4 separate regions of the Homo sapiens genome follow, and regions 1, 3 and 4 are each linked to region 2. The links come from fine-mapping of genetic effects on gene expression. A gene starts in region 2. Each other region holds a variant in brackets. All regions are shown on one strand. Distances are from middle to middle.

Region 1 (5,034 bases), 51 kb before region 2:
CACTTACCTTTGGGTCCTGGAGTGCCCATCTCTCCTTTTTGCCCAGGGGGTCCTTGAATGGCTCCATAAGCTGCAAAAGCAAGGAAACACTGGCCTTAGAGTCTTGATCACCTGGAAGCTTGGGACATCAAGTCATTTGTTCAGAGTAACACAGAGAGATAGTGATGGAGTTTGGACGTGTAAGAGGAAACAAAGTTCAGAATTTATAGAATTTGTCTAATTTTGAGCATCTCAAATGTTAATAACTGGAGATTTCTCATGAGACTGGTGTCTCTGGAGCAGACCCGTGGGAACCTATGCAGTGAGGCAGGTGCTGGGAAAGCAGTTGGATGCCCTTACTTTGGAAGAAGTCCATGAGGTCCGCAGTCACGTTGCTGTAGGCAGAGAAGACCTTGCTGATGCCGGGTGGCCCCTGTGGCCCAGGCTGGCCTGGTGGGCCCTGGACAGTGTAGGCCATCCCTTGCAGTAGGCCCTGACCTGTAAAACACCAGAGCTTGGGCACAGGAAGCAGGGATCTCCCAGTACCCTCTTCAGCAGGAGCACAGTGCCCTCCGAGTGTCAAACTCCCAAAGCAGTTGAACTAGATCAAGCCGCAGCAAGGGTGAAGCCCTCCAACTTCCTTTGTATTCCACTGTGTGACTGGCACAGGTCTCTTCCTGCTGTGGGCCGGCATCAAAAGCTTGTTGACTGCGTAACTGTGCCGTTAAGCTGCGCGGGGAAAGGACTCTTAGCCAACATCCTTCTCTCGGCCCCAGCAGAAAATCCAGCATGGTCATATGACTCATCTGGGACCCAGAACGAGCTAGGTGTTGGGAAAACAAAGTACAAAGCCCCCAGCGTGCTCTGTTCCCCACAGCTCGGGTCCCAGGACTGGGGCTCCTTAAGCTGAGTAGGCTGAGAGCTAGGCTGGGGCTGCCTGTCCCCTCCAGCCCCTGCCTGCTTGATTCTGTCTTCACAGCCTGGGGGTTCCACAAACAAGAAAGCCAGTCTGGAGATGCTCCCACGCTCCTTCCCCCCAGCACCAAGGCCTAAATGTCCCCACTTACGCTGCATGCTCTCTGACACCCTCACAGCCAGCTCATTGTAATCCAGATCTCCAGCAAAGTCAGCTCCCAATAGTCCGCCATTGCCAGCATACATGCCGCCTTCTGCTGCTGCCCCATAGCCTCCGCCTGGGCCGATGTCAGTGCCATAGGGACCCCTGTCTCCTGCAGCTTCACCAAAGGCACCGCCTGCACCCAGGGAGCCTGCACCACCTCCTCCTGTGCTCATGGAAGAGCTGTAGGAGCTGCCCCGCCTGACAGATGAGCTGTGTGAGGAGGAGCTGCTACCCCGACTGTGGGAGGCATCCGTGGACAGGAGGCGGCTGTCCCCAGGGGGTCCCTGCGGCCCAGGAGGGCCTGGGGGGCCAACAATGAAGCTGCGCACATCAGGACCTGCAGGGTGAGAAGCTGCATGAGTGGGAGCTCAGATCTCGGTGGAGAGAAAGACTTGGGAGTTAGGGAGTCTCTCCCAGGGTGTCAATGCCCCTGAGAGACCAGAAGTGAACTTCAGGGTTCTTGTACCCGAGTGGGAGAATTTTGGTGTGGAAGGAAACCGGGCTTACCCCACCAGTGGCTCTCGTGTGGCCTTCCTGTCCCTTTAAGTGCCTCCCTGCCCCACTTACAGGGAAAAGCAAGGCCTGCGGGGTGCCTGGTGGGGCATCACCGTCGGGGCACCTACTTGTGAGGTAGCTGATCAGCTCGCTCCGGAAGCTGTCGCTGTTTTCAGCTGCATAGGTTGCCAGGGCTCCTGAGACACCCGGGGGCCCTCGAGGCCCTGGGGGACCAGGAGGTCCTGGAGGGCCTGGGATGAATGACAAGCCGGCAGCTGGGCAGAAGGAAGAGAAAGAAAGGTCGGGGTAGTGCTGCGGAGGAAGCTGAATTCCCAGCCTGTGCTCGGGGCGCTGTGGGCCCCACCTGAAAGGAGGGGATGAGGCTGGGCCTCCCGGGTGATGGGAGGAGAGAAAAGCAGGAGGCCAGAGCCTGCTGTTTCCTGACATCATCCAGGAATGGCTGTTCCCGTCAGGCTCTCCCACTCCCAATTCTGAGCCTCATTCAACTCAGCCCTCCAGTCACTGAGAGGTGGAGCCCCAGGTCGGCCCTAATCACACACCGGGCTGCGCCTGGGAAAGCCATCTCTCCCCACCTCTGTCCCTGCCACGGCTGAAGGCCCCTTGCCAGCACATGTGGCGCTCTCCAGGGCCCTGCACCCAGCACTGTACAGGCTCCAGGAGCACTTAGACTGCCCTTGCTAAAGCCCATGGGAGCCCCCAAGGCCCGGCTGCATCCCCTGCCCTCCCCATCCCACTCCACAGTGCCCTACTATGTAAGTAAGACGAGAGGTCCTCCACGCTGATGCTGGACCACACATTGCCTGGGATCCCTGGTGGACCCGGGGGACCTGGGGGTCCAACGATGCCTCTGAATTCAGACCCTGAGACACCAAGGGAGGGCACGGAGTCAGTCCTGGCCTGGGCCAAGGGACTCTGCTTCCTCCCCAACCAGTTGGACAGATGTCCCCTGCTGGGCCTTACCTCGCAGCAAGGAGAGGAGCTCCTCATAGGAGGTTCCCGGCAAGCCAGGGGGCCCCGGGGGACCAGGAAGCCCAATGCTGATCCCAGAACCTAGGGAGGTGATGGATTCAGATCAGGCAGGGGGAGGCAGATGGAAACACCTGTCAGAGAGGAGGTCGGATACAGAAGAGGTTTGGACAGAAGTGGGGTCCAAGAAAGAAAAGAGATGGTGGCAGGAAGAGAGGCAGAGAGGAGGAGCCCAAAGGAGGAACGGAGGGGCCCACGGGGCCGGAGA[A/G]GCAGGTCCAGTGTGCCTGTGTGCTTCATTCTGTGTGTGTGTGTGTATGAGTATGTGTGTATGGGAGTGAGTGTGTGTGTGTATGGGAGTGTATCGGAGTGTGCGTATGGGAGTGTATGGGAGTGTGCGTGAGTACTGGAGTGTATGGGAGCGTGTGTATGGGAGTGTGTATGAGTGTGTGTGTATGGGAGTGTATGGGAGTGTGAGTACAGGAGTATGGGAGTGTGTTTATGGGAATGCGTGTGTGTATGCATATGTGAGTGTGTATGGGTGTGTCTGAGTATGGAAGTGTGTGTATAGGAGTGTGTGTATGGGAGTATGTGTATGGGAGTGTGTATGGGAGTGTGTGTGTATGGGAGTGTGTGTGTATGGGAGTGTGTGTATATGTGTGTGTATGGGTGTATGGGAGTGTGAGTATGGGTGTGTGTGTATGGAAGTGAGTGTGTGTGTGTATGGGAGTGTGAGTATGGGTGTGTGTGTATGGGAGTGTGTGTGAGAGAGAGAGAGTTGTATGTAGACTCCACACGAGACAGTGCCTGAGACCCCCGTTTTGGCTTTCCTTGCCATGCTTCTTGACCTGCTCCAGGCTCACAGGTTTGAACGGCTCTGAGCACTGCTCATTGCTGGGGTTGGTGCAGTCTGGCAGGTGGGGGTCAGTGGGGCAATCACAGGGAAGTTCACGCTGCGAGTCCTCATCCCAGTCATCCCAGGCCCTTCCCAACCACCCCTCCTGCAGACACTTACTCGACATGTAGCTGAGAATGCGACTACTCAGCTCTGCATAGTCCAAAGACAGGAGGGACCCATCTCCACTGGCTCCTGGTGGCCCTGGCGGACCCCGAGGGCCCATCAAGTACTGACGTAGGTACTGACGCACGTCATCCCCTGGAGAGGAGAGGATGCACTAGCAGGACCCACCCAGGCCATGGGGGTCGCAGCCATGATCCAGCCACAGCCTGGGCTCCCCTGCACAAACTGGCTCCTGCGTGACATTTGTGAGTTCTGGGTCCGCAGGACCACGGTGTTCAGGGGGGACACCAGCAAGCTGCCAGGTTCCCAAAGGGACACCTGCCAGCTTGTCTGGCATGGGGGCTTGGGAGGACATTTCCTGCCCCCTTTCCAGCCGGTTTGCTGACTCAGCAAGCAGATCAGAGCAGTAAGTGGCTCTTTGTCCAAAGGACTCTGCCTCCCTCTTGCAGCCCTTCCAAGGCTCAGACGAGGACAAGGTTTGCATGACGAGTGAGGCCAGGAGAAAGCAAAGATAGTCCCACCCTCGATCCCCCCACAGGTGACTCACGCTGCAGCACAGCCAGAATGTCTTCAGAAGAGATGGAGGACGAGAACAAGCTGACACCGTACCCCGAAGCTGTCGGGAAGAAAACCTCAGGTTACCTGCTTAGCAGGTACTGAAGCAACACCCTCACTATTCCAGAATCTGAAAGGCCCGGTCACCGAGCTGTTTGTCTTTGGGGGAAGTGGATGAATGGAGTATTACGAGGCTATTTTGAAAGCATAACAAAGTCAAATACTGTTGTTGGGATTTTTTTTTTTTTTGTAAGAAAGGAAGTTTATTTTTGAGAACATGCTTTAGCCTAATGCCTGCCAGATGCTGCCAACCTTCATGCACAGGTGGGAAGAACCTATAATTAGGAACACATTAGTCAATTGCCGGAAGGCTCACTCGGTGTCTCTCCAGCGTGGCCGCCCTGAATCTGGACAGACCCTTGTTGACACTGTATCCCAGTGGCCCGATTATTATGAATTCGGAATTAAAACTCATGTTCCAGAGAAGGGCAAAGCAAACAGCAAACGAGGAGATGAGGCTCTGGGAGCAAAAGCAGACCCACAGGAGGAAGGTGCCAGGTGCAGGGCGTGGGGAAGGGCTTACTCCGTAAGTAGCTCACAACGTGGCTTGCCAGCTCTGAGTAGTCGAAAGTCTCGCCTGTGATGGTGGTGACAGGTCCTGGGGGACCAGGTGGGCCTGGGGGACCCTGAACTCCGGATAGGTAAGATCTAATACTGTCACCTGCCGACCAAGGAACAAAGCAAAGTCAAGCCTGTCCCAAGAGGACATGTTCTCCCCACGGAGGTGACCTGAAGCACATGATAACATGCCTGCCCCGCCCCACACATGGGCCCAAGGCTGGGCCAGGAGGGAGCCTAGACTTCCCCTCACTGTCCTTCC
Region 2 (5,034 bases):
AAAGTATTAGAAAACCATCCACTGGCTATTGACCTGATAACACAGAAGGGCCCAGCAGTTTGATGCCAGGAAAGCCAATGCCCTGGAATTGAATATCTTGGAGGCTTTGTCTCTGTAACACCCCAGAGATGGGTTTGCTGCTTGCTACATTTGGTATCCTGGATTTTCATGACTGGGAGCAGGTGGGATAGGGCACCAGCTTTGTGATTATGCTGGTTTGTTTACAGTTGTGTCCTGCCACTGTTAATAATGGCAAATGAAACAAACAATGTAAACACAGACTTCTTTTTGTTTTTCATAATCTGAGAAGGTGGTTAGTTCTTAGGTCAGGTCAGTTTCACCAATCTAAGGAGTTTTTTTCCTATTTTTTTTTTTTTTTGAGACGGAGTCTTGCTGTGTTGCCCAGGTGGGAGTGCAGTGGCACAACCTTGGCCCACTGCAACCTCTGCCTCCTGGGTTCAAGCAATTCTCCTGCCTCAGCCTCACAAGTAGCTGGGGTTACAGGCATGCACCGCCACACCCAGCTAATTTTTGTATTTTTGTATTTTTAGTAGAGATGGGGTTAGTATAATATGAGTGTGCACCACTACGCACACCACTATGCTTGGCTAATTTTGTATTTTTTGTAGAGTCAGGGTTTTGCCATGTTACCCAGGCTGGTAAGTTTCTATGCAAGCTTGAAGCAGAGCTGTTCACTTTAATTGTTCCTGTGTAAACTCTGATCAGACTCATGTGGGTGTTTTGCAGGGCCTAAGAGTAAAGCAGGACACCTCTGAATCTCTGGAGTGAGTCTGTGTGGGGATAGACATCTGTCTTAGGTTAGTTCTGACAGATCTGTGCCTTAGCTCTAAGAGAGAACATATGGAGGTAAGAAGAAACTATTCTGCTTTTCAAATAAATACCTTTTAAAAATCTTGCTACGTTTTACAAGTCCACTATTAGACTACTGATTAACTACTTCTCAAAAGAAGGAATGTGCCAGAGGTTTTGCCTCCACTTCAAAAAGTAAAGTGATAATTTGTCAGTTACCAGTTAACGTCATCCACTTAGGTATCTAAACTGGTAATTCTCATCTCAAAGTGAATTTTTTTGGCAGGAGGAAACCCAAGTTGACTCGTAAGAGTATATATACGGGAAACAATTTTCTTCCTTTTTTTATTCCTCTAAGTTTGATCCTGCAAAATTTCTGAATTAATCAGATCATTTCAAAGATCCTACTTTTCTTTAGATTAGAGGTAATTTTACAGCATGGTAAACAGCAATGTTTACCATGTATGGCTTAATCAGAGAGGCCCAGTCAGCACAGGGACTGTTTCTAGAAGGCCCCCTTACCTATACTTTAACTTCACCCCTGAGTTGTTCTCTTCGTCCAGTGGAGAGAGAGACAGAGGGAAGAGGAGAGCAAGATAGCGAGAGAGGAAACTGAGATTGGGAGAGAAGGAATTATAAGCCCGTATCATATTCTAAATAAAACAACACAAGTCATTTTACAATGCTGAAAACAATGCAGAAAGGTCTTGCCTCTAAAGCCCGCTATATTTTAACCAGCCTTCAGCCTTCTCCTTTTCCCCACTTATTTCCTTTGAAAGACCTACCCTAAGCAGAATGCATACACCAAAGTCATCTTTTATAACCAATTGATCACTTTAACCAGAATGCTAGAAACTACAGAACTTCATCTTCTTTTCTCCAATAAACATTTAATTTCTAAATGGCAAACCTTAAATCAAAGTCTCAGAGAAAAGGAGAAAGGTCAGTCTTCCTGTTTACTTACCTGGTTTGAGGTTTTGAAGGAATTGGAAACAACTTTGAATAAATCCCCCTCTCTCTTTCTTCTCCTGATGTTTTCTTCTAGAAATTTGCAGTGCTCACTTTTTTTTTATCCAGACCCAGCCAAGGTGTGTTAAAGCTGAGTGATCTTTCAAAAATGTTCACTTTTCTTTCTCTCCACCTTGTTTCTTTCAACTCTTTGCTTCCAAACATGTCCTGACAAAGGTGTGTCATGGTTTACAGCGTTACTCCACCCTTCCAATTATCTGACACTTGCTGGATTTAAAAAAAAAATCTGCCTCCAGGAATCAAACTTTACTGGAGGCAGAAAGCTTCTCCTTCCAGCTTAGGTAGATTAACTATTTATAAGGCCCATGGGGAAAAGGAAACAAAGGACCAGCATAAAGGAAATGCTTTTTTATTGCCTACCTTCTACAGCTGGAGAACTGCCACAACTTTGTGGCAGTACCCTTCCTCAGTGCCATGGGTACTGGAATCCCACTGCATGATTCATGAGTCTAGGCACGTGGATGGGCTCATGGATGAGCATGGTCTAGGCACATGGATGGCCTGTGGTCATACTGCCTGAGCCCTAGAAAAACTGAAGTTGGCAGGATTTATATTCAAGATCTGTTTCCCCTATAGATGTCTTCGTCCTCTGTTCCTGTGTCCTGTGTCCTTTGTCTTGTTTCCCCTATAGATGTCTTTGTCCTCTTTCCCCTCTTGTGACTCAAGCCAGGTCAAGCCCATCTGGAGAAAATAGTTGGTGAACTAATTCATAATATGCTAATGACTGAATGTACTGAGCAATTGGTGGGGTAGGGGTTCGTTTTACAAAAGAGGCAACCAGATATAGTGATGCTGACCTAAAAGAGTGACATGTTAGTGATGGAATTTTAGGCATTTAGCCACCTAATAATGGAGAGAGGTGCTGTTGGGAAGGGATAAGGACCTTCTTGTCCTTCAAATCAGGTGACCGCATAGTCTCCATACACCTAAAGACATGTGTGGGCTCCCAGATGTCCTGCAACTCCAAGTACATCCTGGGGACCTTTAGATTTCCCTAGAGGGTCAACTTGCATCAATCAGGATAATTCTTATGAATACCTGGATAGCATCTGGCTTCCCAGGGGGCCTAAAGACTAGCTTGAGACACTTGGTGTTGGTAAAATGGGAAGTCTGAACCTGGAACTCACTCAGGCAGTCCTTTGAGGCCATAGCACATTCCTGGGACCCAGCATCACACTGGGATTCCCAGTTCTGAGGCATTATCCTAAGATACTGGAGGGGAGCAGTGGGGCCCTTACAGCATAGCACCGATGTGCAACTGCACCTTGCTATTGTGGGCACTGCATCCCATGGAAGGGTAGCAGACCACAACAACAGCTGTGGGGCTCTTGCTCCTAAGCTGCCCATATTCCACACTGGAGTCGTGCATTTCAGAACCCTTTCAATTATGCAGAATTTGACACTTGCTTTGTAGGATGTTCTTGCCTTCCCCAAATAAATACTCAATATGTCTTCCGTCAGTTTCATAGTAGAAGAACACTGAAGAACCCAGAACACACAGAGCTTTCAGCATAAAATAGACATGCCCCTGCATCATTTATTTCTTTATTCATGAATTCAAGAATTAAACAAAAATATATTGGCTCCTGCTTGGAGCCAGACATTAAACTATGTGCTAAGAGTTTGGTGGTGAAATATGAACATAGTCCCTCTGCTTATGGAGTTCACAGTCTAATGGAGGAAGACAGGCCTTACATAATGTATTAGTCGGTGAGGGTTCCCATAACAAAATACGACGGACTGGGTGGCTTAAACAACACAAATTTATTTTTTCACAGTTCTGTGGGCCAGAAGTTCAAGATCAATGTGTCAGGAGGTTTGATTTCTCCTGAGACCCCCCTCTCCTTGGCTTGCAGATGGCCGCCTTCTTGCAGTATCCTCACATGGCCTTTCTCTGTGCATGCACATCCCTGATGTCTCTCTCTGTGTGTCCTCATCTCCTCTTCTTAAAGGACACAGTCAGATTGAATTAGAGTCCACCCTGATGGGCTCCTTTTTTACTTAAATTTAACTACTTCTTTAAAGACCCTATCTTCAAATAAATTCACTGAGGTACTAATGGCTAGGGCTTCACATATGAATTTTGGAGGGACATTATTCAGCCTATAACAGTTACGTACAATATATAATTGCAGATTATATATATATATATATTATAAGAGCAACTGCAAGAATATGATAACTATTATAAAGAAAGCATACTGACTTGAGGCCAGGAGTTCAAGACAAGCCTGGGCAGCATAGCAAGACCTTGTCTCTACTAAAAAAAAAAAAATAGCTGAGTATGATGGCATGTACCTGCAGTCCCAGTTACTCGGGTGGTTGAGAAAGGAGGATTGCATGAGCCTAGCAGTTCAAGGTTACAGTAAGCTATAATGGCGCCAGTGCACTCTAGCCTGGGTGACAGAGCAAGATCAGAAAGAAAGAGTACTGGCTACTGTGAGAGCGTAAGAAGAGACATAATCTTGGAGAGGGGTGTTAGGAAAAGTCCTGCTATATAAGTGATACATGAAGGTTGAAAAGAGATCACACAGGTGAAGGGCAGGGTGGAGAGTGTTCTACTATCTAGATGGGGCAAGAGTCTCTGAGAAGGCTCTCAGGTGGAAGCTGCACGGTGAGTTGGGGGAAGAGTGATGAGGCCAATTTGCTCAAAAGCATCAAGTGAAGGGAGGCAGGCAGCGGGCGAGAGGCTGGCAAGGGAGGCAGGACTAGATCACACAGGGCCTCACAGGCTGTGGAGGGTCATGTTTTGGGTTATGTGGCAAATGTTAAGTTGACATTAAGGAGCAACTCCCTACAGGCACTGTGTGGGTGTTCGGATTATTGATCCCAGGAAAGAAGAACGACTGCAACTAATGCTTTCTAGAACTACTGTAAGCCAGATTTTTTACATCCATTCTCTAACACAATCCCGACAACGACTCCGAGAGGTGTGTACCATTATTACCTTCATTTTATACCTGAGAAAAGTAAAGTTTGAGAGGCTGAGTAACAGGCCAAGGGTCTTCCATCTCATAAGTGGCAGAGTCTAATAGATTCCACTTGACTCTTGGACCTTCATTTCCCACTGCCTTGTGTATTATTAAAATTTAAGTCTGCCCATAGCTTTCAACTGAAAGAAAATAGGCAATATTAGAACAGATCAGGCTGAGGGCAAATTACAACTAAAAAAAACCCCAAACCATCTGAACAGTG
Region 3 (5,034 bases), 79 kb before region 2:
AAGGTGTAGATAGGTGTATTTTTTGGAGTCTGCCAACTTTAGATTTTAGAGGAATCCTGGGTAGGGTACCATAGTCCTGGACTTTGGAAGAAGAGCATGAGGATCCTGGAAGCTTGGAGAAGAGAACAGTAAGAGGAGAGGATGCAGAAAGGTGATTGGAAGGTGCCAAAGAGAAACTGTTTAAAATTTGGATGCATTTTGAGTTTAGCATTTTCACATTCCATTTTTGCTTCCTCTGCCTTCTAACCCTTTCTTCCATATCAACACCCAGTAAGTATCTGCCCTGAACACTTAGTTTACCAAAATGTATTTGTAGGAGTCTTATATGTCTGTTATTTCTGTTTGCATTTAAATGTTTTTGGATACCAGTTGAGGAATGAAGAGTTTAGTCTTAATAAAGAATTTTAGGTCATAGCTAGCAGCCAAATCTGGTACTTTTGGGTGCAGCAGAGGCACTGTCTTTCTAGTAACCCTAAAATCATACATATATCTCTGGCCCTGAGATGGAGGGAGGGGCTGTCGATATTATTGTTACTGATTAAGTAGATTTTGATCCCCAGTGCTGGCAGTGTTTAAAAATTACCTGAGAGCTTTTTCAAAAAAAAGAGATTTCCAGCTACCCTCAGACCTGTCAATTTAGTTTTTTTTTAAGAGATGAGCCCCACAAATTCATTTTTAATTGTTTTGTCAGTGAAAAAGCAGAGGTATCTGAGAAACTACAAATTGAAAAGATGAAAAAAAAGGATAACATGTAAAGTTCTACTGATTAGCTATGTGAACTGCTCATCACTTATGCCTAATTATAATGTGTCATAAAAGCTATACATGAAGATGATCAAAATGCATACTTTGAAAAAATTTGATTTCATCTGTAAAGACGTGTAAGTCAGATGACGTTTAAGGTGTTATAACTGGTTCCACAGATGAGTCTATTGCTTTATATTTATACTTTCTATGTGTAGTCTGCATGGCTGTTCAGTTGTTTTGTTTTAAAAAAGAAAGAAATGTTTAAGGAAGAAGAAAATGTTTTCTACCTCCAGTATTCCTTGTACAAAGCCTAACTAAAATAAAATCTCACTCAGGAAACAAGAAGACAAAAGAAAACATTGAAGAAAACACGCAAATTTATTGTTGATGGTGTAGAAGTGAGTGTAACAACATCAAAGATAGTTACAGATAGTGATTCCAAAACTGAAGAATTGCGGTTTCTTAGGTGAGTAGAGAAACAACGTAATTAAAACTGGTTTGTGACTTCTTTTCAGTCTCTGAAAAGTCAGAAGAATAGAGAAACAAGGGTAAATTATTGGCTAATTTTTTTTTATTCTTTTACTACCGTTCCACTCGAAAGAAAATTTTTAAAGCTTTAAAAAAAAACGTATTTCAGAAGTGTAATTTTTGCTGTCTTCTCTATCATTACCATTAAATTTTATCAGACGTCAGGAACTTCGGGAATTAAGATTTCTTCAGAAAGAAGAGCAAAGAGCCCAACAACAGCTCAATAGCAAACTACAGCAACAACGAGAACAAATTTTCCGGCGCTTTGAGCAGGAAATGATGGTAAAGTCTGATTGTTATACCATTTTATATCATTTTGTGTTAATAATGACATTTACTGCATTAAAAACAGACAAACAAAAAAGGTTGTAGAACTTGTTCTCTGATTGCCAGATTTCTCTAGCTTTGTGATTTATTTCTGGCATTTTTACCCTTTTGGTGTTCTGGATGCCTTTTATTGATTTATTCTTTTTTCTTGAAAGGATTTTCTATCCCAGTCTACCTTAAGCTGGTTTATGGTGTGATGGGTTGTTTTTTCTCTCATGAAAACTTATGAAGCCAGTAAACAAAGTTCCTAGATTTGCCTATTGCTGGGTAATTTTTCAGTGCTCTAATTCGATCTTTCAGATTTGGAATCCAAGATTTTAAGCCAGTTTAGAGCAATTGCCTTCAAACCTAGCTGAGCAGTAGGACTCCTCAGGGGCTTTTTAAAAATGTGCTTTATTCTCTGGCTTCTACAGTTAAGCCTCCACATCTCTATTTCCTGCTGCTAGAGGAAATAGTGCTGACTAGTCCTGGGTAGCTGTCACTGAGTCCTTCAGTTTTTGCCTTGTGTCCAAAGTTGGAAAAGGAATTAGTAATGTAATATAAAATTTTTGTAATTTATGTTGACTATCTGCCTTAATGTAGGTTAGAAAAAGTATCATTTGAAATGTTACAGTACTCATGTTTTGAATATAGTCCTTGTGTTGACTTGTAATTTTAATTGATAAAGATTGTTTTGTGTGAACTGTGGATTGTTGATTACATGAGTTGGATCATAA[CTG/C]AGATTTCCTAAGAAAATAGTGAACTTTTGTTCTCATTGAGTATTTTTATAGTACTTATATTGTTTTCCAAAACCTTATAAAATCTGTATTTCTCCCCCATCATACTTTCTAAAATGTTTTACTTTTCAATTTTTTTAAAAAGAAAACATCCATTACAAATAAGTAACTATACCTGTATTCAAAAACAGTGTTACTGAGTGTTATATAAACAGGAGTCTTGTTGCAAGAGTAGATTTATAATTCCAAAAGATCTGTTCCAATAGAATAAGGTGTTTATTTTAAGAATCTTAATGTGGAAGATTGAATCTGAAAATGACAATCTTATTATTAAATAATGGCGATATTATTAATAATATTATTTTATTAAAGTAGACCTCAAATAAGCTCTTTGATTTATCAAAAATTTTATTGGATAAATATTGAAATTTTTCTGATTTGCCTTACTACTTCACAACAATTAGCTATTCTTCTGGATAATCTAAAAACTTTGAACATTCTACTAGTATAATAGAAAACAAATTTTGGGTCGGGCGCAGTGCCTTATTCCTGTAATCCTAGCACTTTGGGAGGCTGAAGTGGGCAGATCACTTGAGGGCAGGAGTTCGAGACCAACCTGGCAAACATGGTAAAACCCCGTCTCTACTAAAAATACAGAAAAATTAGCTAGGCAGGATGTCACATGCCTGTAATTCCAGCTACTCAGGCGGCTGAGGCATGAGAATCATTTGAATCTGGGAGGCGGAGGTTGTAGTGAGCAGAGATTGTGCCACTGCACTCCAGCCTGGGCGACAGAGGGAGATCCTGTCTCAAAAAGAAAAAACAAACAAAAACAGAAAAGAAAAAAAAAAAGACCAGGCCCAGTGGTTCATGCCTGTAATACCAGTATTTTGGGAGGCCGAAGCAGGAGGATTGCTTGAGCGCAGAAGTTTAAGACCAGCCTAGGCAACATAGTGATAGCCCTATCTCTCCAAATAAATAAATAAATAAATAAATAAATAAAAAGATAAGTTGGTCATGGTGGCATGCACTGTAGTCCCAGCTACTTGGGAGGCTGAAGCAGGAGGATAGTTTGAGCCCAGGAGGCCGAGGCTGCAGTGAACTGTGATTGTGCAACTGCACTCCAGCCTGGGTGACAGAGTGAGACCCTGTCTCTAATAAATAAAATAGAAAAAAAATTTCCATGTTAGAAAAAAAGAACTCATTTTTTTGAGAATTTTCATAACATATTTTAGTGCATTTGACTTTTTCAGTATTGTGAAGGTTATAGTACATTACTAAATTTAAATACTAGTTATGTTCTCTTAGGAAACATCTTTACTATAAGGTATTAATATGGGTGATGGAAAAGTTATCATCTTGAGCTATATTGTTTTACAGAGTAAAAAGCGACAATATGACCAGGAAATTGAGAATCTAGAAAAACAGCAGAAACAGACTATCGAACGCCTGGAACAAGAGCACACAAATCGCTTGCGAGATGAAGCCAAACGCATCAAAGGAGAACAAGAGAAAGAGTTGTCCAAATTTCAGAATATGCTGAAGAACCGAAAGAAGGAGGTAAGTGTAAACTACTGTTTTTAATTACTAAAGCTTTTTTTTTAAAAAAATTGTTTTAAGACTATCTAAGGATTTAGGAATACTAATAATACTTGAGAGTTAAATAGCACCTATTCATTCTTTCATTCGGTCTTCTCAACAGTCATATAGAGTTGTCATAAGGTCAATCATTATTCCCATTTTACTGCCAAGAAAACTGGAGTAAGAGAGGTTTTAGTGACCTGTTTAAGTTCACCTCAAGAGAGGTTTTAATGACCTGTTCACAGACTACCCCTAAATATCCAGCTAAACCTTGAATCAGGTCTTCAAATTGAGTTTAATCCATCTTAAGGTCTACCATTGTCCTTAATGCAACACATTTAAGTCCTTATATAAAAGTATTTTTTAGAAAACTTACTATGTTGTGTTTGCCAGTGGCAGCAGTGATTCATTTTATTATTTATAAGTTATTTTTCATCTTTAATTCATACTTTTAACGATTTTGTTTGTTGATTAGCTTTATTGCCTTTCATGGGTATTGTGCCAAACAAAAGCTGAATAACCTGAAATTTGACATGCTATCTATAACTCATCAAATTGTGAGGTACTTCGAAGAACTAGAAGTGGAACATATCTGTAAAGTCATTTGATGAGAATGAGTTTTTTCATTGTTTCCTGAAACTGTTTCATATTGTTATAGAATCTGTTTGCAGTATAAAAGATTGTCATTGCTTCAGAAGGAAGATTTACTTATTATATTAGCATCTTTTTTTGTCCCAAATTAAAACTAAAAGAGCTTTACATGTAGGTAATTTTCAGAGATAATTTTATAATTTATTAACATCTTCAGTATAGGAAGACGATTTGCCTTTTCATGATATAAAAGACACCAGAGACAATGATTGTGATCAATTTTATTAGGGTTGGAACAAACAGAAACCTCAGCCAAACTAATAAATGCATTTTCACTTTTGTTACACATCTCAAATACCCAGATTCATTGACTTTAACATTTAAATTGAGAAGAAAATTGAATGTCATACTGCTGAATCTTAAGGATTTGCTTTAAAAAGGGTAGAGTCAAACATTAATAAATACAGTGATTTTATGATTTCTTTAGATAAAGATGAATGAAATGGTATGTGATTTTATTTGATGTGGCTTCCATTTCTAAAAA
Region 4 (5,034 bases), 97 kb before region 2:
TCCTGGGTTCAAGCAATTCTGCTGCCTCAGGCTCCCAAGTAGTTGGGATTACAGGCATCCGCCACCATGCCTGGTTAATTTTGTATTTTTAGTAGGAATGGGGTTTCACCATGTTGGCCAGGCTGGTCTTGAACTCCTGACCTTGTGATCCGCCCGCCTTGGCCTCCCAAAGTGCTGGGATTACAGGCATGAGCCACCACGCCTGGCCTATGTGAAGAGTTTTTATGCCTTTAGATATTAGGTAGATAAGCTCTTTTTTAAAAATACTTTATGTCCCAGTTATATTAGTGTAGAGAATAGTGTCACACACTTGTAAATATTTATTTCAGTTTTGTTTTTTTAAAGTTTTTTAGAACTAGATCCTGATGAGTAATCATGTTATTTTCAAGCAATAATTTGAGGCACTATTCTTTTAATGTAACTTTTATTATTTATATTAAACCAAATGATATCATTGTTGGTATAATCAATATATGACAGAATTTGTTACTGTGAGGAATTTTAGAGGTTATCTAGTGTGAGTTATTTTTCTTCCTTCATGCCAGCCCATTCACAAGTATAAAAGATACATCTTTAAAATCTCCAGGACATCAGTCAATTAATTTTAGTGGCTGCGTCATTTTTCATTGTAGAACTGTACTGCATGATTTAAGCAGGTTCCTGTTAAGTGACATTTAGGCTGATTCACTTTTTCACTATTGCAAATGGTGCTTTGATGAGTATTTTTGTATGTGCATGAATTTTATTTTATGAAATTATCTCCTTCTGATAAATTCTTAAAAGTGAGATTTAGACATTTATTTATTGAAACATTTATTAACTTTAAAAAATTTAGTATCTGTTTTTAATGTAATAAGTGGAGTTTTGCTGAAGTGATGTTAATATACATCATAGTGAAATGTCTTATAAAAACAACCTAGTTAGCATTTTAAGATCTGATTCCTAACGTTAAAAATGATCCTAGTATCTACTACATATTTGGAAACCTTTCATTTATAATAAATGATGGTGAGAAGTTAACCAAAGAAGGAAAACGAGAAAGTTAAAGTACTAAGAACAAGGAAAAATGACCAAATGATAGAAATATGGGGAGACTGGAAAGGGTATAGAGGAGGCAAAACTTTGCCTCCACCCTCTTAGCGTCCCTGCTGGGCCCGAGAATTAAACTGACACAAGATAGAGTAGAGGAGAAAAGCATAGACATTTAATATAAGTTTTATGTGACATGGGAGCCCTCAAAAGAAAATGAAGTCATAGAGAAATGGCAAAACCTACATGCTTTTGTGTTAGGTTGAAAGAAGAGAGGCGATTGTAGAAAAGTAGATATGTTATATGGGGAGGCTAAAGGAAGATGTTTAATTTAACAAGGTCTGTTTGTACACAATTCTCTTGACTGTGACTCCCTATCAAAGAATGTTTCTTTTCTCCTGGGATAGAGAAGACGTCTTTTACAGGAACATTTTCATCTCCTAGTTTCAGGAAGAAAAGGTGGAAGATTAGAATGCCCTTCTTGCATCTGCTATTTTTCAAGTGCCTTTCAAACTCAAAGTGATCCTTATGTCAGAGTGGCATGTTTGAAGTGGTGTATTCTGCCACCCTTCACGGGTAATGATTATGCCTAGTGTTCCATTAACGGAACGCTAAGCTTGTGGGGGTTATTTATATCCTACTGCCCAAGGTAATTGCCAAGGTCTGATTTTTCACAAAAAAAATTTGCAACCTCTAGCATAAATGGGTTAATTTCACACACAAAAATTTGCAACCTCCGGCATAAATGGGTTTCAACCTCCAGCAGAAAGGGCTTTGGAAACAGACCTGGATTTAAATTCTGTTTCTGCTTCTTACTAGCTACATGACCTGGGAAAGCCTTTTAACCCCTCAAAGCTCATTTATATCCTCCTTTAAAGTAGAGGTAATAATATATCATGGGGTTGTTGTGAAGATTAAATAGTAATAGTAATTACAGCTAACATTTTTGAATCCTTCTATATATGCCAGATAGTATATTAAATGTTTATATGTGGTTTTTTTTTTTACTTGGCAGATATATGTTATCTTAATTCTCATGAACTTGTGAGATGTAGATAATTTTTACTGATGAGGAGACTAAAAGAGGGATTTTGTAAATTGCCCCAAGCAACACAGCTAATAAGTGGCAAAACCAGAATTTAAATCCAGCAGTCTGACCCACCAGAGGCTGTGATTTGAAATGCTGTCCCCTATGTATATGAAGCCCTTAGCACAGTGCATAGCCATAGCATGCATTAATTCATATTTATGTTTAGGCTGTCTTTTATAAATAGTGTGTCAAGAGAATGAGAAGACAAGCCACAGACTGAGAAAATATTTGCAAGACACATATTTGATAAAGGAAAGTTATCCAGAATATGCAAATAACTCCTAAAACTTAACAATTAGAAAATGAACAGCCCAGTTAAAAAATGGTCAAAAGATTTGAACAGACATCTCACCAAAGATTTGACAAATAAGTATATGAAAAGATGCTCGACATCATATGTCATCAGGGAATTGTAAATTGAAAAGATACAAGTACTACTATGTAGCTGTTAGACTGGTGAAACCCATGCTTGCTGGCAACCCCAAATGCTGGTGAGGATGTGGAGCAACAGGAACTCATTCATTGCTGGTGTGTATGCAGACTCTTTCAGCCATTTTGGAAGACAGTGTGGCAGTTTCTTTTTTTTTTTTTTTTTTTTTGGAGACAGAGTCTTGCTCTGTCA[C/T]CCAGACTGGAGTGCAGTGGCGCAATTTCGGCTCACTGCAAGCTCCACCTCCCAGGTTCATGCCATTCTCCTGCCTCAGCCTCCCGAGTAGCTGGGACTACAGGTGCCCGACACCACGCCTGGCTAATTTTTTGTATTTTTAGTAGAGACGGGGTTTCACCATGTTAGCCAGGATGGTCTCGATCTCCTGACTTCGTGATCTGCCTGCCTCGGCCTCCCAAAGTGCTGGGATTACAGGCGTGAGCCACCGCGCCCGGCCAACAATTTGGCAGTTTCTTAAAAAACTAAACATACTCTTACGATATGATCCAGCAGTTGTACTCCTTGTTTATTACCCAAATGAGTTGAAAAACATGTCTACACAGAAACCCGCACATACATGTTTATAGAAGCTTTATCCATAATTGCCAAAACTTGGAAACAACCAACATATCCTTAAGTAAGTCAATGGATAAACTGTGGTATAACTAGACAATAGAATATTATTCAGTGCTAAAAAGAAATGAGTTATTAAGCCATGAAAACATTAAGGAACTGTAAATACATATTACTAAGTGAAAGAAGCTAAACAGAAAGGTCTATACATACTCTGATTCCAAGTATATGACATTCCAGAAAAAGCAAAAGCAAAACTATGGATGCAGTAAAAAGATCAGTGGTTGCCAGGGGTTGGAGGAAGGAGGGGATGAGTAGGCAGAGCACAGAGGATTTTTAGGGCAGTGAAACTATTCTGTATGATATTATAACGAGGGCTACATGTCATTATACATTTGTTGAAACCCATAGATGCAAGAGCAAACTGTAATGTAAACTTTGGACTTGGGTGATAATGATGTGTTAATGTAGGTTCATCATAGCAACAGATGTATCACTCTGGTGTGCAGTGTTGATGGGGGGGTGGTTATGCATGGAGCACGAGGGAACTTTCTGTACTTTCCACGCAATTTTGCTGTGAACCTAAAACTTTCCTTTATCAAATATGTGTCTTGCAAATATTTTCTCAGTCTGTGGCTTGTCTTCTCATTCTCTTGACACACTATTTTTAAAAGACAGCCTAAACGTAAATATGAATTAAATATGAATTAAAACTTAAAATCTATTAAAATAATAAAAAATTAGAAAATGATGCATTTGAAATGTGACACTTCTGATACTTTCATTTTCAGGCCCAGAATAAAGAGACCAGTGTTTTAGCTGCTGCAAAAGTGATTGACACTAAATCTGAAGAAGAACTTGAAGATTACATGGTAGAGATTGACATATTAGCATCTTGTGATCACCCAAATATAGTCAAGCTTCTAGATGCCTTCTATTATGAGAACAATCTTTGGGTAAGTATTTTCTGTTGATCTAAAGGAGTAGCCAAAATGAGTTAATTGTCCTAAAGAGATGTTTATGAATTATTAAAACCTATTTTATGTCTTATCTCTTCTATTTAGTTACTTGTGTCACTTGAATGAGAGTTGATCTGCTGATAAGAGAGTAATAACAAAGTTATTCTCAGCTTCAACAGATGTTCAGATTTATGTTTCAGATTGTACAGTTTCATCATGATTGTTTGACATTGGATCCAGGTGGAAAAATTTGGTTAAGAATAATAAATTTCCTAAAATATGAAATTAGATGTCCTTGTTTATAATTTAAATTTAATCATTTAAAAGTTTTAAAAGTTTCTCTTAGAAATTGTTTATAATTTTTTATCCTAAACTTTTTGTAAATCTTGTAATAAACTGTAAAATACTAGAAATGTTAAATATTTATCGTATTATCAGGTTCAACTTTAGTGCATGATGTGATGGCTAAAGCTGTATGTATAAATTTTATTCATTTTCAGAAAATATTAAGGTACAAGTAGATATAGAAATAAAACTTTCATATTCATTATAATAATCTGTCAATCACTTGTTCTGTACCAACATTAGTTTAATCAAGAGGACTTTTTAAAATGCAGCTTCAGTCTTTCTTCCTGAAGGAAGAAGCAAAGTTTTATGAGAGAGAAGAGTAAGTAGTATAAGGAATACCTGACTGGATGCCTAAAGGTCTATATTTTTTTATCCCAGTGCTGCCACTTACGGAACTTGGATAAGTCAGTTAACTTTTATGAGTCTGTTTACTCATCTGTAGGATGAGTAATGATCTACCTCCCAAATTATTTTCTGAATAATGTAATGAATTTGAAAACAATTTCTAATTGGCAAGCACTTGTAAAAAAAAATAAAGCATTATGCTGAGGGAAAAAAGGCAGGAAGCTACCTAATTAGTTAAAAATATGTTATTTTTTAAAATTATAGTT

The links. PIP is the estimated chance that this variant, and not a neighbour inherited with it, causes the effect.
Region 1: its variant is the best candidate, but not a certain one, in a credible set for the expression of COL17A1 in whole blood (TOPMed, PIP 0.50).
Region 3: its variant is the best candidate, but not a certain one, in a credible set for the expression of COL17A1 in whole blood (INTERVAL, PIP 0.57).
Region 4: its variant is the best candidate, but not a certain one, in a credible set for the expression of COL17A1 in whole blood (INTERVAL, PIP 0.58).

Annotation. Positions count from the first base shown.
Region 1 is chr10:104,032,899-104,037,932 of GRCh38, forward strand. COL17A1 (collagen type XVII alpha 1 chain) reads right to left here. Exons shown (of 56, transcript NM_000494.4): 46 at 4,738-4,875; 47 at 4,147-4,215; 48 at 3,594-3,734; 49 at 2,576-2,665; 50 at 2,365-2,475; 51 at 1,723-1,869; 52 at 1,047-1,436; 53 at 340-477; 54 at 8-70. Among named protein-coding and RNA genes, the nearest start is that of MIR936, 13 kb to the right of the region's middle. The variant A/G (reference allele first, on the strand shown) is at 2,850.
Region 2 is chr10:104,083,949-104,088,982 of GRCh38, forward strand. It overlaps COL17A1 (collagen type XVII alpha 1 chain), which reads right to left and starts at 1,932. Exons shown (of 56, transcript NM_000494.4): 1 at 1,775-1,932.
Region 3 is chr10:104,004,479-104,009,512 of GRCh38, forward strand. It overlaps SLK (STE20 like kinase), which reads left to right. Exons shown (of 19, transcript NM_014720.4): 10 at 1,083-1,213; 11 at 1,434-1,557; 12 at 3,699-3,878. Among named protein-coding and RNA genes, the nearest start is that of SLK, 40 kb to the left of the region's middle. The variant CTG/C (reference allele first, on the strand shown) is at 2,319.
Region 4 is chr10:103,986,768-103,991,801 of GRCh38, forward strand. It overlaps SLK (STE20 like kinase), which reads left to right. Exons shown (of 19, transcript NM_014720.4): 2 at 3,908-4,072. Among named protein-coding and RNA genes, the nearest start is that of SLK, 22 kb to the left of the region's middle. The variant C/T (reference allele first, on the strand shown) is at 2,742.